3 linked regions of the Homo sapiens genome follow. The protein of the gene in region 3 purifies or fractionates together with the protein of the main gene of each other region. This does not show direct contact. Each region holds a gene or a part of one and is shown on either strand. Other genes may lie near its edges.

Region 1 (3,656 bases), on a different chromosome or scaffold from region 3:
CAAAAACAAACAAACAAACAAACAATAAACCAGTAGGGGCATGGAGTACCAGAAAATATTATAGGCCAGGAAAGAAAAGCAGACAAGGACTGGGAAAGATGTGTGAGCTGAGGACCTAGAGGAAGCCACCACAAGAGCAATGAAGACAGTGGTTGTAGATTAGGGGGTAGGGTGGTACCGCCTACCTAGAGGCGCACATGCAGGTGGAAGGATGCTTCCAGAGGCAGGAGTTTTGGTCTTCAGGGAAGTGTTAGCCACACCCTGCACTGACTTTGCTCTGCTTTCTCCCACAGTCCCCCCAGAGGACACCAGGATTGACGGAGGCCCTGTGATTCTACTGCAGGCAGGCACCCCCCACAACCTCACATGCCGGGCCTTCAATGCGAAGCCTGCTGCCACCATCATCTGGTTCCGGGACGGGACGCAGCAGGAGGGCGCTGTGGCCAGCACGGTGAGCTCCAGCCAGCTCCCCCAGCTCCTCCTGGGCCTAGCCCAGCTCACCTCTCCTTTCCCACAGGGGTTTCACCACAGACTCAGGAGCACACAGACATGAGAGGGGTCTTAGAGGTCATCTGGTTCAACCCTCTCATTCTACAGTTGGGAAAATTGAAACCCAGAGAAGAGAAATGAATTCCTAGGTTTACTGTGTCATTCAGTAGCTGAACAGAGACTAATAGTAATAATAAGTTGCCATGGATTAAGCACCTACTGTGTGCCAGACACCGTGCATGCTAAACACTTTATGGACAGTCTCTCTTAATCTTCATAGGAGTCCCATAAAGGAGGCATTATTTCCAACTCACAAAGGAGGAAACTTGCGCTCAGAGAGGTTGAGTGACTTGTCCAAGGTCACACAGCTGGCACAGAGCGGGGGTTTGTACCTGGGTCTGACTGTGCTTTCTCTCCACTGATCACTTCTACCTCTTTCCTTCAGCGTCTGGTTGTCAGATTATTCCAGTCATCACAACAAAGAGGCTGGGGAAGCAGAGATCCTTGTATACATTTTATAGATGAGGAAGCCATGAAAGATATCAAGTGACTTGCCCAGGATTACATAGCAAAGCGGACAGTACAGCTGGAATTCAAAGCCAGATTTCCTGGTTGGGGTTACCCTGCCAGTTGTGGGTAAACATATGTGTATTCAGCCCTTTGCTGGTGCTGCAGGAGCACTTCTCAGTGTGGAGACAGAGATGTTCCCATGCTCCTCAGCAAGCAATCCCAGGAATACCTGGCTTCTGGCTTCAGTTCTGCCCTTAACACACTGTGTGACCTTGGATAATTCGCTTCACTTTTTTCTGGCCTTAGTTTCTCATTTGACAAATGATAATTCAGCCTCAGTGGTACTTAACCTTTTCACAACCAAAAACTGTGATTTTTCTTCATCAGGGCTACATGTTTTTAGATATTTTGGCAACCAAACAAGTTGGTTTGTTAATATCCATTTGTCATCTACCCCCATTTTTCATATTCATTAAAGACAATGGAGCTTCAAAGCAGCACAAGGGAGCCAGTGTTATTGCACTGGCCCTCAACTGGGCCTGTCCAGCAAAGCTGCATGCATGGTGGTCAAACAACGGGGTCTTACTTTGATTAATAATATGGCTTCCCTCAGGCAGTTTGCAATATAGAAAACAGATCAAGGGTTCCTGTGACCATATTTAGGGACCCCTGGCTGTCACTGAGCAAGTGTAAGACTTCGAGCCTGTGAGTCCCTTCCCTGCCCTCAAGGAGTTTACAGTTTAGCAGAAGAAACCCAACCCTGAAACACGCACACATGGTGCCTACAAGCAAGGTTGGATGTGTCTAGAGCTGTGAGCAGGACACACTGACTATAAGGGCATAAATTCAGTCTGGGAGAGAGTTCTGAGGGCTGGGCTGGCTGAAGAAGGCTTTCCAGAAGAGAAGGGATTTGCGCTGGACTCACAAAGAGTGAACTCTAATATAAACTGTGGCCTTAATAATAATATATTAGTTTCGGTCCATCAGTTGTAACAGACTTATCACTCTAATGCAAGGTGTTAAGGTGTTAGTAATGGGGGAAAGTGTAAGGTCGGGGAGGAGGGTATATGGAAACTCCCTGTACTTTCTGCTCAATTTTTCTGTAAACTTAAAACTGCTCCAAAAGATAGTCTGTGATGTGGGCATGATGGCACACTCCTGTAGTCGCTGCTACTCAGAAGGCTCAGGCAGGAGGATTGCTTGAGTCCAAGCTTTGGAGGCCAGCCTGGGCAACATAGCAAGACCCTAAAAATATATAACTTTTAATTAAAAGATAATTAGTAGTCTATTGATTAAACACACACACACACACACACACACACAAGGGAAGAGGTTGTGGGAGTGAAGGGGATTGAGCTTTAAGTTAAAGTACCCCTCCAGCCCAAGCCCATCTCTGAGTGAGGTCAACTTAAGAGCAGAGGAGGGGGCTTTTAGCTTAACCATATCTCCCACCCTTGTCATGTTCCAGGAATTGCTGAAGGATGGGAAGAGGGAGACCACCGTGAGCCAACTGCTTATTAACCCCACGGACCTGGACATAGGGCGTGTCTTCACTTGCCGAAGCATGAACGAAGCCATCCCTAGTGGCAAGGAGACTTCCATCGAGCTGGATGTGCACCGTGAGTGGGCTGGGGGGAGCAGTCTGGAGCAGGGGGGTGGAAGAAGGGGTGTGTTTGAGAAGCACACTCTTAGTTTGAGAAACACAAACTAAGAGTCCCCCTATGGTCCCCAGGACAAACGCTTGCCTTCTTCACATCTTTCATTCCCTGGATTGAACCATGGGGACTAAGGGCTGGTAGAGCATTGGCTGTGGAGTCAGGCAGTCCCCAGGTCTAAACCAGCCTGTTATTAGTCAATGGTTTACACTCTCTGGGCCTCGGTTTCCAGTTCTGTATACTGTATATTGCAAAAGATAAAATACTGGCCTACAGTCCCTTATTCAAACTAAAAGTGGTTCGATGGTGCAGCCTGAACCAAGGCTCTTCATAGTCTTTTATTTAATTTAGTCTTAAGTTTCACTGCAGATGTATTCATATGTGTGACTATGGGATGTGGCCCAGATGCTGCTGGGGATCTTACACAGTAAACGCTCTATGCACAACCATTGCCTTTCTAAATGTGAAAAATTCTAAATTCTGAAATGCATCTAGTCCTAAGGGTTTCAAATAAGGGATTGTGGACCTGGACCTGCTTCCTGGGGTTGTGAGCATTAAATGAGATATAGCAGAAGAGCATCTAGCATGGAGTATTCTTACCTGGTAGGTGTGTAATAAATTGTCTCTCCCCAGGGAACCATGGGGGTGTGGGCAGCAACTGGGGATGCCCACACCCCATCCTTTTTAGTGAGCCAAGCAAGCTCACACTGACGCCTAGTGGCCACAGTGGGTCATTAGTCCATTGAGTTATTTGTCCCTTTGGTGCCTTCATTGGTGGTCACCCTAGCAGGCCCCCTAGAGGCTCCATGTGCAAAAGGTGAGGAAGACAGTGTGTTAACTGGAGCCGATACACTGCAACCTCAAATTCCTAGATCCCCGCCAGAGTGGTCAGGTCTGAATGTACGTGTTAGGGAGGGAAAAAGAAACTCAAGGGACAGAAAAGACCCTGACTCCCTGTGCTCTACTTTGCAGACCCTCCTACAGTGACCCTGTCCATTGAGC
Region 2 (3,656 bases), about 16 Mb from region 3:
AAGCTTCAGAATGACTGTATCACATTTTAAAAAATGTTACTTCAAAGTTTTAGGAATGTTTCGAGGACAAAAACATACCATTAAATATAGGGCTATAAAATTAGGATTTAGGAAACATGTATCTTCTTTTTTTTGAGACAGGGTCTCACTATGTCACTCAGGCTGGAGGGCAGTGCTGTGTCCACAGGTCACTGTAACCTCAAACTCCTGGGCTCAAGCAATCCTCCCACCTTGGCTTCCCGAGTAGCTGGGACTACAGGCATGTGCCATCATTTCTTGCTGATTTTAAAATTTTTTGTGGAGACAGAGTTTTACTATGTTGCCTAGGCTATTCTCAAACTCTTGGCCTCTAGTGATCCTCCCCACCCTGGCCTCCCTAAGTGTTAGGATTACAGGCATCAGCCACTGCCTGGCAGGAAACAAATCTCCATTGAGATAATTTCTATTGCAAAAAAAAAGCCAAAAAAACAAAAAAGTTCAAGTTCTACAATTACAAACCTTATAGTACAATCTTGTGTCGAATAATGAGCATCCTTCATGATTATCAAGGTAGAAAACCTTACAAAAATATTAGCTTTTCTCCAAATTTCTACTTTTTTGGACACCAGGCATAAAGACTTCTCTCTATTCTTTTATTTGGCAGCACGATGGATAAAGAAAATTTGAAAATAAATCAGGAGGCTTCAGTTCTTGTCTTGGGTTACCTATTTAGCCATATGACTTTGGGGCAGTCATAAAATCTATTTGGTTTTCACTCTACTAAATAGAAGACTGGCAAATGCAAACTCAAAGGTCCTCTTTAGCTCTAAAATACTACGACTTTATGATTCTTTCATATTTTACAAAAGTTTTACGAAATGTATCTAAGAAATAACTAAACATTATAATAGATTTTTCTAATTTATAAATTAAAAAGATTATAAATCATATACACTATCTTATGAGGCAGAACTGAAATTCCTATATAAAATATGGATGAAGGATCCAGATTTACTGTGGTTAATAATTTAGTTTTGCTAAATTATAGGAAATATAAAAAATTACAACATCTCAGAAAACGTAGTAAAACTGGATATAAAATGGTGCCAAAAGTATTTGCTCTTATGAATCAAAAGAAAATAAAATGCTATTTTTTTGAAAACATATGCTCTTGGCTCCTCACAGCCAATTATGTAAAAAATTTCACAAGTTCATATTATTTGGAGAGTTTATATATAAGTTACATTATGTTTATGTATATAAAATGACAAAATAGTTAATGTTGCTTAATAGACTGCCTGAAAAATTAGTCTTAACACATGCCAGAAGAATTAAAAATCAGTATTATCATATGTTAGAATGCATGTTACTTGAAAATAGTTTACTTCAAGTATTTTAAATATTCTTTCTATAAATCAGTTAAGCACAGTATTGCTATAAACTGTCAATACATAAAGTGTTTGCTATGGGTAATAAAGTTAAATTAAGGTCTTATTATATTATAAACTACAATTTATATAAACAGAAATATTTTGAGAAAACATACCTGATTCTTGCATTACTATAGCAGAGTTGAATAATGCTAGTTTATGCTTTGGATTTAGTTCCAGAGCACGATTAAAGTTTTTTAGGGCTTCATTTGGTTCTTTAAGTTCAATATGTACAATTGCCAAGTTGTACCAAAGATCTGCATTATTTCTGTCCAGCTCTAGTGCTTTAAGATATGCTTCCTTTGCTTTAAGAGGTTTATTCATTTTTAAAAGCAATTCTCCTCTGTGGAAAAATCAAACACAAGCTTTACTTACAACATTACCATCTCAGTTTGTAGATACAATTTTTGCCAAGTTTTAAGCCTTTCCACATACAGCTTTTTTTTCTCTTAACTCAGACTCTTAAAAAACTCTCTTTCGAAAACAACTCTTTGAAACTGTCCTCAAATCTGAACTCCTTAGTTCAGTATATTTGGCTTGATATATTTTCAAATATTATTTAAGAAGAAAAAAATTATGCCTGATTTCAGAGGGCAACCTATCAGGAGGAATCCAGGAAGGAGGACAGAGCAAATATATTCTTTGACTTTATCTTAAAAAGGAGACAGACTAAACTGCATCAGAAAAAGGGCAGCTAGCCAGAGTGAAAGATTAATGAATTTGTCAGGTGACAAAATAACAGCATTAGAAGAAAAAAATGACATATAGTAGTGGTAAGAGAAATTCCAATATTTGAATGTATAATAGAAGGCTCACTATGCAAAAAACCAAAATATTAAAAATCTGTAACCCCTTCTTATATTAATTTAGTCCTCATCAATGTCTTCTTATAATACGACCATTCTTAAAAAAAAAAAAGAAAAAAAAAAAAAGAAAAATGCTGGGCATGGTGGCTCGTTCCTGTAATCCCAGCACTTTGGGAGGCTGAGGTGGGCAGATCACTTGAGGTCAGGAGTTGGAGACCAGCTGACCAACATGGCAAAACTCTGTCTCTACTAAAAATACAGAAATTTGCCAGGCATGGTGGCACGCGCCTGTAGTCCCAGCTAATAGTGAGGCTGAGGAACAAGAATTACTTGAACCCAGGAGGCAGAGGTAGCAGTTAGCCGAGATCACACCACTGCACTCCAGCCTGGGTAACAATGTGAGACTCTGTCACAAACAAACAAACAAACAGAAAAAGGACTAAAAAAAAGCTGAACAGGTAGAGTGGGAGGGATTAATCTGACCTGTAGATAACTTTGAGGAACACACTTAGAATTGAGGACCAGTTAAGAAACCATTGTATAAATCTTTCTAGTGTGGTTCTATTTTCTGTTAGAAAATTTTAAAAAGTAATTTTGCTTAAAGAATTATTTTTACATATGTACAAATAATATTTAAGTAGTGATATGAGAGTTGTTCTTATAATACTACTCTTTCCTATAGTATCAGCACAGAAATAAAAGGAACAACAATTAATATTCTCATTAAAACCACTTCTAGAATGAATGTTTGTCCAAAATATTATTTTTTTAATGTAGAGATTGTTGAATAGTTCTTTATGAATTAATACATGACAGGTGTTATTTATAGATACAACCCTGCTAATAAACTCAATAGGCACGGCGGAACAAAGAAAACCCCAACTTACAAACAGATTTTATCTCAAAAACTTAAATTCAGAATGTACTTTCCCCAAAGGAAAAAATGTTACAAATTACTATTAGTTTTCTGGACCAGGCTACAAAACGAAGTTTAAAAACACATTTTTCCTCAAAAGTAATACAAATGATAACACATACATGAGAAAATAAATGAAGTTTTAACATGTGGTGCCAGAAAACTTTTTTTTTTGCTGAGAACCAAGATGTTTTCTTTGTGTCAAAGGCATCAATAACCAATCAACTCTAAAAACAAGAAAGTTCCTGAGAGTTTGATATTAGAAGTAACTATTATAAAATGTAAGTTTCAAGTTTTAATTTAAATAGGAAAAGAACAATTTTGGTGATGGGAAGAAAATGCAACTAAGACAGAGCTGCTTCTACCCTTTCCTTAATACAAAACCTAAGTTGGCTATTACAAGTTAGGGATTCCCCTTGTTAATTTCAAATCAATAAAATCTGACTGTCAGTCTAAAAAGTTATGCTCTTCTATGCACTTGGTTGCTAAGTAAGATTATTAAAAACATAATTTTTTTTCAAAAAA
Region 3 (3,656 bases):
CAGGCAACAAAAGCAAAAAATAGACAAACGGGATTGCATCAAACTAAAATGTTTCTGCACAGCAAAGACAATAAACAGTAAAGTAAAAAGACAACCTATAGAATGGGAGAAAATATTCGCAGTCTGTACATCTGATAAGTGATTAATGACCAAAACATATAATGAAATCAAACAACTCAATAGCAAGAAAAAACAAAATCTGATTTTTTAAAGTGGGCAAAAGACCTGAATGAAAATTTCTCAAAATAAGACATACAAATGGCCAACCGGTATATGAAAAATGTTCAACATGACTTATCATCAGGGAAATGCAACCACAGTGAGATGTCAACTCACACCTGTAAGAATGGCTATTATCAAATAGACAAAAGATAACAACTGTTAGCAAGGATGTGCAGCAAAAAGAACCCTTGTACACTGTTGGTGAAAATGAGTACACTATAAATTAGTACAGCCATTATGGAAAACAGTATGGAGGTTCATCAAAAAATTAAAAATAGAACTACCATATGATCTGGCAATCCCACTACTGGTGGATTATATATCCAAAGAAAAAGAAATCATCATGTTGAGGAGATATCTGCAACATGTTTATTGCAGCATTATTCACAGTAGCCGAGATACAGAACCAACCTAAGAGTTCATCAATGAATGGATGGATAAAGAAAATGTATACATACACTAATGAAATACCATTCAGCCATAAACAGAAGGAAATCCTGTCATTTGAGACAACATGGATGAACTGGAAGACTTCATGTAAGTGAATAAGCCAGGCACAAAAAGACAAATATTGCATGATCTCAGTAATATGTGGAAACTAAAAAAGTTGACCTCACTGAATTAGAGAGTAGAATAATGTTTACCAGATAATAAGAGGTTAGGGGAAGAATGGAGTTGAGGAGTTACTGGTCAAAGGATATATAATTACTTAGAAAAAAGGAATAAGTTCAAGGGACTTATTGTAAAGCAAGGTGACTATAATTAATGACAATATATTATATTCTTGAAAACTGCTGAGAGTAGATGTTAAACATTCTCACCACAAAAATAGCTATATGAGATGATGCATTTGTTAATTAACTACATTTGTTCCAAATGTATGCATACTTCAAAACATTAGATTATACAAGATAAATATACACAATTTTATGTCAATTAATTTGAAAAAACTGTATATTTAATTATTATCCAGGGTGATCAAATCAAATGGCACTACAGGAAACACAGAAAGACAAACACCAATTGCATAGATTTTCTCCCTGAGTGAGTCATTATTACATGGTCAGAGCTTTTTTTTTAGTAAACATTGTCTAGATACGGTTTACTGGTGGCATTTTGAATTGTGTTCAAAATCCAGCACTGAACTCAGTTTTGCCATATGGTTATGTGAGCCTGACACAAAAACAATGAGCTAAGTCCATTAAGGAATCACAGAAAAAAGTTTTTACAGAAACAAATGGTTCTCAAAGATTTTTTTCAGTTCACAGTCCTCTATAGAGGGACAAAAAGCAATATACTCCTACTTGCTCATGTTAAGCTATCTTCTTACCGAAGTGAATGGGAGAAATGAAGTTGCTTTCGATCTAAAAATAATGTAGTGAATTTCTTGTTTGTATTAAATACCATGAGTATTAATTCATTCTGAGTAAATTACAAGGCATCAGATCACACAAATACCACAGTAGAGCAAATGCCTACCCAGAGATAAAATCCTCCATTCTCTCCCCAAGATTTTTGCAAAAGGATGGTCCCAATTCTCTTTGAGAACTACCACTATTATTTTCCCATTTTACTTGGAGACTATAGTTTCTCTCTAAACAATCCTTTATAGAAAAGGACCTCATATTTTTAATGTCGTCTCACTTTGGCATGTTATAGACCCTATTAAAGTTTGTCAAAGAAAAACAGTCTCCCTTTTGAAAGTGAACAAAATGTTCTTTATCTTGGCTATATTTCCCTTTCAATTCAACCATCTGGATCTAAATTAAGGTACCCTACTTTGAACACGGGTGCGCTCACCATCTGGCTACCCAAAAGTGGCAATTATTTCAGGTAAACGGACATTTTACCTAATTCTAAGCAAGCATACTCTTTTGTCGGAGACTACAGCATAAATACACACCCATTTTTATCTGCCTGCTGCACACCTAGTTGATGAAAAAGTGAGTATGTATTCTGCCTAATTTACTTATTGGTGTGTAGACATGTGGATTTTAGGAGAATTTATTTTCAATGTTCAACAACTGTAGTAACCAAGAGTAGAGAATTTGTCTCAACTTGGGAAAACTTGGGCTTCAAGAGGGAGCTCGTCTTCTAACCTTTGTACATTACAGTATGGAAATCAGGAAAAGCAAGTCTTCCCAGTTGTACAAAGCCAGGCTACTTACAACACCCAGAGGTGGGTAAAACCTTCCAGGGGTCCAAGGTATATAGCACACAGTAGAATCTAATTTCCCTGCCGTCACCAAAATTCTTTTGCTCAGGTCTCTGAGAAGCAAGTTGAAGAATCAGACTGATAGGATTTTAATGAGTTAGTGTTTCCACATAGGCTAAGAGAAGTGGACTGCACTGTAGTATTGCTGTTTTAAGCATTTCAAGTTGCTCAATATGACTTCCTTTATCAGATTACATATTTGTTTTTATTACAGACATTACCCTATAATTAAATTGGCAAAATTATATCTAACTAAAAACCAAAATGTTTAATCATTAATCAAATGAAAATTCAGTGCTTGCATCTGCGTCCTATTTGAAAGTGGGTTTTAAAATGCCAATTTACATTGCATTTTGTGGACAACATAAAAGTCCAACCCTAGCTGAGATGCTGATATGGGTCTGTTTAAAAATGCTCCATGCTCCAAGTGGCTATAGTAACAAAAAATGTTTAATAAATAGAAAGTTTGCATAACTATGAAATGGTTTATTAGATTTATTTCTTTTGTCTTATCAACTCCAGTAGAAACATCCAAGAAATTATAAGATTTACTCTAATAATAATAATGAGGAAGGAAAAAAAAATGAAGAACAAGGACTTTCTCTAAGATGCTGTTTAGAAATAAAACAATCCTGGGATTTTCAGAACACTGAGTTCTGCATTTCTATTGGGATGAAGAGTTTAACTATATGTTAACTAGGTTGAACTTCCAACCAAGTTGTTTACTTCTTTGGGGAAAACTGCAAGAGAGTTTGAGTACAAATACGCACTAGGGGTACAAGAAATCAGTTACGGTTCAAGCAGAAACATCTGGTCTTTTTAAGAGTCCTGTTAATTTGAAAGCATTGACCAAAACAAGCTCAGTTCTGCCAAACATATTTTGGCATGGCTCAAAAAACAGGATTTTTCAAAAGCATTTATTTCACTGCAGCAAGATGTATCAGTAATGATATGCAACTCCCACTATTGACATTTTGACCTAAGAAGCTTGTTCCTAAACATAGTATGCAAATTTGTTTTCTATGCCTTTCCCCCGTATTTGACATAATTCTGGGTTTAAAAAATATTTTTAATCTGTATTCTTTAGAACATGTTGGAGGAAGTGGTAGAAGGGGGTTTAAAATATCCATATCTAATGTCAGGAGTAAGAAAGTGAATAATTTATACATTCACTTATAGGAGGTTTTAACTATCATACAGCTACTAAAGCATTGGGCAT

The links.
Region 1: the proteins of TRHDE (region 3) and KIRREL1 purify together in Homo sapiens (affinity purification with mass spectrometry; one large-scale study listed by BioGRID and IntAct). This does not show direct contact.
Region 2: the proteins of TRHDE (region 3) and TMTC3 purify together in Homo sapiens (affinity purification with mass spectrometry; one large-scale study listed by BioGRID and IntAct). This does not show direct contact.

The regions. Positions count from the first base shown.
Region 1 is NC_000001.11:158,084,129-158,087,784, forward strand, and holds part of KIRREL1 (kin of IRRE-like protein 1 isoform 1 precursor), read left to right. Parts: intron 1-293; coding exon 294-451; intron 452-2,467; coding exon 2,468-2,618; intron 2,619-3,626; coding exon 3,627-3,656. UniProt on the Homo sapiens protein: Required for proper function of the glomerular filtration barrier. It is involved in the maintenance of a stable podocyte architecture with interdigitating foot processes connected by specialized cell-cell junctions, known as the slit diaphragm.
Region 2 is NC_000012.12:88,190,700-88,194,355, reverse strand, and holds part of TMTC3 (protein O-mannosyl-transferase TMTC3), read right to left. Parts: intron 1,753-3,656; coding exon 1,526-1,752; intron 1-1,525. UniProt on the Homo sapiens protein: Transfers mannosyl residues to the hydroxyl group of serine or threonine residues.
Region 3 is NC_000012.12:72,275,330-72,278,985, reverse strand, and holds part of TRHDE (thyrotropin-releasing hormone-degrading ectoenzyme), read right to left. Parts: intron 1-3,656. UniProt on the Homo sapiens protein: Specific inactivation of TRH after its release.